Regions from separate parts of the Homo sapiens genome. Here region 1 is linked to region 2. Evidence: fine-mapped expression QTL. Tissue or cell type: gastroesophageal junction. Region 2 holds a variant in brackets; the other region holds the start of a gene. All regions are shown on one strand. Distances are between the middles of the regions.

Region 1 (2,912 bases), 150 kb before region 2:
CCAGCACAGAGGGACACCCAGATACCCAGCACAGAGGGCAGGAACAGGTCAGCTCCCTGCCTGGGCTCAGGGATGGGGCTGGAGGTTCTAGGAAGCAGAGCAAGTAAGCAGGACAGGGAACAGTGAGAACACAGGTGTAGATGGAGAATCAAGGCGGGGCGCAGCCAGGGATTCCAGGGAGGAGTAGACAGAAACTCAAGGGAGGGAGGCCTCGAGGGGATCCCAGGGAGGTGTGGACAGGGATTCTAGGAAGGAGTAGACAGAGACTCAAGGAGGCCTCGACGGAGATCCCAGGGAGACTGACTGCCTGCTGCATAGGAGGGAGGCTCCCAGCTGTGTCCCTGAGCTGCATAGGAGGGAGGCTCCCAGCTGTGTCCCTGAGCTTCATCCACTCTGTAACCTGTGACAAAACGGAGCATTATCTGTCAATGAGCACATCTGTGCCGCAGTTTTTGGGATGGTGCCAGGGTAGGGGTGAGGGACAAGTTGAGGGGACAGGTTGAGGTGGGGTCCCTGTGAGGCCCTCCTGGACGGAGTGGACCTTATGAGACACTCCCTAGCTGAATTCCCAGCAGGAAGCTGGTGCCCAGAGCACCCTGGACTAACGGGCGGGAGAGGGACTTTGTTTTGGGAGGCTCTTTGTAGATCAAGGCATTAAAATTGCACCTTTGGGGAAAGCATGTTCCAGAGCACCAGACACCCCGAGGCACCCTGAGTTGTGGGGGGGGAGGGTGATGGAATTTGGGGCCCTCGCTGAAGCCCTTCATTATCCAAGCCAGGCGCGGGGTGGCACGTAGTTCCCACAGCGGCCCCTGGACGGAGGAGAGGGCCTGGGCCGTCCACACCTGCAGAAATCTGGAGCTGGTCCGCCTAGACCAGGGGAAATCGGGGTCCCGTCCGGGTACACTGGCAGAACTCAGGGGTCAGATCCTCTGCCCTGGAGCATTCAGATTTGTGCCTCTACGTTATGGAAACCAGGGGCCCGTCCGGGTGCAACGTGGCATCCACAAAATGGCAGGTCCCCGAGCTCCGGGCTCCGAGAGAACAAAAGCAGAAGCCACTGCCGCCCGCGCTCGGGGAGGAGCCGCCCAGGTGGGCGCGTCCGGGGCTAGGCGGGAGCTGCGCAGCCGGGTCCAGGGGAGACGCCCCGCCCCGGCCGGACCCTCGGAGCCTCCTAGGGGAGACCCCGGCCCCGCCCCTCTCTCGCCCGGATCGGGCGGGGCCCCGGGAACGCGCGCGGCGAAGGCGGCCTCGGCCCAGTGCACAGCGGGACCAGGCAGAGTTCGGGGAAAGCGTCGGAGTTCGGGAGACCAGGGTCCAGCATGGGTTTCAGCACAGCAGACGGCGGGGGCGGCCCAGGCGCCCGGGTAAGAGGGGGCACGGGGACTGCGGCGGGTGGGGGCGCGAGCGGACGCGGGAGTAGGGGCGGGTGGGGGCGCGGGGGTAGGGGCGGGGTGGGGGGGGGCGCCGGAGTAGGGGCGGGTGGGGGCGCGGGGGTAGGGGTGGGGTGGGGGCGCGAGCGGACGCGGGAGTAGGGGCGGGTGGGGGCGCCGGGGTAGGGGCGGGTGGGGGCGCGGGGGTAGGGGCGGGGTGAAGGCGCGAGCATCAAGGCGGGCGGGCGCGGGGACTGGGGTGGGAGGGGGCGCGGGTACCCAGACGTGCTGGGGGTCCTGGCGTGGGTCCTGGGACCTGCCGGCGGCTGCTGCGGGAACGGGAGGGAGCTTCTTCAGGCACCCTTTTCCTTGTAACCTCGTGAATACTCGGGAGAAGAAATAACGCTTTCTGGACAGATTTGCCCTCTCGGTGCCTGAAGGGGAGCCAGGGGAGGGGAGTCTGAAATCTCATCGCCAAAACTGAGAGTTGCTAAGTTACTCTTCAGCTCAAACCGGTGGGACAGAACAGTGATCTGTGGTGGCCCGGAACAAAGAGAATTTTTACTTAAAAATACCAAGATTGACTTTTGTGTTGGAGTGCTAGTTGATTTGAGTAAGAAACATTTGCTAGTAAAACAAGACAGTTATTTCAGCTTTGGTGAAAGAGTGATAAAGCTGTTTTCAGGTTTTTCATGTGAGTTGCAAAAAGTATATTGGGTTTGCCTTTCCCTGTTTCGTGTGAAACTAAAGAGTGGTTGAGGTGAGGTAATTACACTCTACTCCTGTTACCCAACAGCACTTTTGCCTAAAAAGTTTAGTTGGTACGTCTAGGTGTCTAATTAAGAATTGAAACATATAATTTAAAAATTAAGTTAAATGTCATTGAAACGGTGCATAATTGATACTTTTGACTGAGCCTTAGGCAGCTGGGTGGGTCCTGAATCAAGATTCCTGGGAAGGTAGGTTTCTCAGCTTCCCGAAGAGATTTAATGTAAATCTTCATGTAATGTGGACAAAGGTGAGTTTTAGCTTTCAATTTCCCTGAGCCTGCCTCGAATTCACAAAATTCCAGGCTCTCTGGGTCAGAAGGAACTTCGGAGATCTTGAGGAGGCCGCCGTCTCCGAGATTCTGTGATATATTCAGCATTTCCATTCCCTATGGGATCACAACCCACTGGGAAGCAGTGTTTGGTGACCCCCCCACCGAGAAGTGGGTTCATATTCCTGCTTCTGAGGAGATACCAGGTTTTTATTTCACTGTGCGGCATCCGGTGTGCAAATGCAGATGTGGCCTGGGCTGGGAGCACACAGGCTTGACCCCGCAGGCAGCCGGTAGGCCAGGGTGTCAGGTCCCCTGTGTTAGCCGGAGCCTTCTCATCTTTTATCCTGGTAGAGGGGCGCTGCTGGCCTTTCTGGGGGGTGGGTCTAGTCTGAAATCACCTTTGTGGGATCTGTGGCACTGGCTAGCTCTCAAGCTGGCCGGTGGTCTCAAAGGAATTCTTCGTTACTTGTAAAGTAGCCCAGAAATGCTGGGCTGAG
Region 2 (2,912 bases):
CAGCAGCCACCTTCCCCCCGCTGATGTGAAGGGTGGCCGGCCCCTTGGGACCACCATCTGGAAGGTGTCTCTTTTTTCCCTTAGTGGAGTGACATTTATATACACTTAATATATATAAATTTGTATACATTTAATTTTTTTTTTTTTTAAGACAGGGTCTCGCTCTGTTGCCCAGGCTGGAGTGCAGTGGCGCGATCTCGGCTCACTGCAACCTCCACCTTTAGGGTTCAAGCAGTTCTCATGCCTCAGCCTCCCGAGTAGCTGGGATTATAGACGCGTGCCACCATACCCAGATAATTTTTGTGTTTTTAGTGAAACGAGGTTTTGCCATGTTGGCCAGGCTGCTCTTGAATTCCTGACCTCAAGTGATCCACCTACCTTGGCCTCGTAAAGTGCTGGGATTACAGGCGTGAGCCACCGCACCCGGCCTACATTTAATTTTTTAATTTTAGAGATGATTTCTAGTTTATTCACTCTAAGATCACTTAATGGATATCTACTGTGTGCCAACAATTTTGCCTTTATGTTCTTTAAAATTGGCCCCAACTCAACAGATGGCCTCAGCTGTAGGGTGGGCTGGCAGTGTGTTAGCTCAGGAGACTTACAGAGTTTCCAAGCTCCTTGAGTGGCTGTGCTACATGTTTGTGTGTCATTCTAAATCCATTTGGTTTTTTAAAACGGTTTTCAAAAGTTAAATTCTAGCTTTTTTTTGTTTTAGGAGATAAAGTCCCTCCAATTAAACCAAACGCTGGGGAAGAATCTGTCATGAATCTTGACAAATTGAGATTTGCTGATGGAAGCATAAGAACATCGGAACTGCGACTCAGCATGCAGAAGGTAAGAGCCTGGACTCGCTCTGGAGTGAGCAGGAGGGCTGCATACCTGGCCCTGCACTGGTTTTGTTTTTTAAAAACTAGATCTAGGGGGATGCAGGTGCAGTTTTGTGTGGATGTACTGGGAGGTGGTGGAGTCTGGGCTTTTCATGTACCCGTCACACAAGTCGTGTGTGTTGTACCCAGTAGGTAATTGTTCAACCCCACCCCTCCCGCTTTTTGGAGCTCCCAGTCTCTGCTACTCCACTCCATGTGTCCATGTGTACTCACCATTCAGCTTCCACTTCCAAGTGAGAATGTGTGACACTTGACCTTCTGAGTCACTTCACTTAGGATAGTGACCTCCTGTTCCATCCGTGTGGCTGCAGAAGACATGATTGCGTTCTTTTTTTATGGCCGAGTAGTATTTCATGGTATATATGTACCACATTTTCTTCATCTGGTCATCCGTTGATGGGCACTTAGGTTGATTCCATGACTTTGCTGTTGTGACTAGTGCTGCGATAAATACATAAGGCTGCACCAGTATCTGGAGGTAAAC[A/G]GCGGTAGGACGTACTCCTCACCGTATCAAGAATATGAAAGAGACCAGGAGGCCTGAACTATACAGAAGTGCACTTCTTTTCCACATAGAAGGTCGGCAGACTAGGGCAGAATTAGTGACTGCTTGGCATCCAGGACAGCCTTCTGTGGTTCACTCGTGTGTGCTTGGGTGTGACCTCCGTGACCTGACCATTGCTGGCTGTCATGGATGAGTCACAGCGTGGAGGAGAGGGAACTGCAGGACCGCTGGAGAAGCTCAGTCCCCAGCAGGGCAGCTTTCTCTTAGAGGTTTCCTGGAGTTCAACACAACACTGGTGCTTACATCTCAGGCCCGGATATCGATCATGTCATCATGCCTGGCTTCCAGCAGCTCGGAAATGTCTTTAAGCTGGACTTGTTGCTGCCTCTAAATATACTCGGAAGAGAGGGAGAGTGGGCGGCAGGTGGAAACTGATCTGTGGCCTGTGCTGCTGGGAGTCGGTCCAGTAGGACCATCTGTGATGATGGAAATGTTCCGAGTGTTTGCCATCCAGTATGGCAGCCATTAGCCATGGGGCCGTGGAGAACCTGATACATGGTCAGTCTAAGAAACTGAATTCCTCTAATAACAAGGATTCTTGTCCATGAATGAGATCTCTTGCCTACTATTTGCAAGAATTTCTGTGTATTTTCTAAAAAGTCCATTGCTTTAGTCCTATTCTGAAATAGGTGTCTAACACCTATGTGGTGTTAGACACAGGAGAACAGGTTCCCTGCTGACATTTTCAGAGGCCTGTGCCCTTCAGTCTTCAAGTGAAGCTGGGCTTCAGGGAGGCTTTGTGGAATGGTGAGAAGAACAGTGTGACTAAGGCACAGAAGGCTGAGTGATGCCCTGCAGTACTATTGTAGGGTTGGAGGCCAGCTGGGAAAGAAAGAACCATTGCATTAGAGAATGGGAACATGCCTTCGGATATAGAAATGGCAAATCCATGAGATAGTTTAAAGTGAGAATACTAGAAGCATTCCCACCAAACATGGTGTGTCTTGGTGCCTGCTGTATCCCAGGCTCCACGAGATGCTGGAGTCAGCACTGAACAAACAGAGTTTCCTCTGCTCGTGGAAATGCGTTCCGTTGGGGAAGGGATTTTTCTGCTGAGTCTGGCTATTCATAGTAAGAAGCAAAAAAAAGAAATGAGGTAAATTTTTGGGAACAGGCCCCCAAATGTGGCCCAAAACTGACCATAAACAAAATCTCTGCAGCACTGTGACATGCTCTTGATGGCCATGACGCCCACGCTAGAAGGCTGTTGGTTTACCAGAATGAGGGCAAGGGACACCTGGCCCACCCAGGGTGGAAAACCGCTTAAGGCATTCTTAAACCACAAACAATAGCATGAGCGATCTGTGCCTTAAGGACATGTTCCTGCTGCAGATAACTAGCCAGAGCCCATACCTTTGTTTCCCGTAAGGAATACTTTTAGTAAATCTTATGACTGGCTTGCTCTCAATAAATATGTGGGTAAATCTCTGTTCAAGGCTCTCAACTCTGAAGGCTGTGAG

Alleles and levels. Positions count from the first base shown, and alleles are read on the strand shown. Sizes are in standard deviations (SD) of each study's normalised expression.
With allele G in place of A in region 2, the expression in gastroesophageal junction of the gene that starts at base 1,259 in region 1 is higher (large effect, 0.89 SD a copy in GTEx).

The links. PIP is the estimated chance that this variant, and not a neighbour inherited with it, causes the effect.
Region 1: it holds the start of PLEKHG4B, and the variant in region 2 is the best candidate, but not a certain one, in a credible set for the expression of PLEKHG4B in gastroesophageal junction (GTEx, PIP 0.81).

What each region holds. Positions count from the first base shown.
Region 1 is chr5:90,910-93,821 of GRCh38, forward strand. It overlaps PLEKHG4B (pleckstrin homology and RhoGEF domain containing G4B), which reads left to right and starts at 1,259. Exons shown (of 20, transcript NM_052909.5): 1 at 1,259-1,367. The coding sequence starts at 1,323. RefSeq lists an enhancer at 1-298.
Region 2 is chr5:239,640-242,551 of GRCh38, forward strand. It overlaps SDHA (succinate dehydrogenase complex flavoprotein subunit A), which reads left to right. Exons shown (of 15, transcript NM_004168.4): 11 at 719-837. Among named protein-coding and RNA genes, the nearest start is that of SDHA, 23 kb to the left of the region's middle. The variant A/G (reference allele first, on the strand shown) is at 1,375.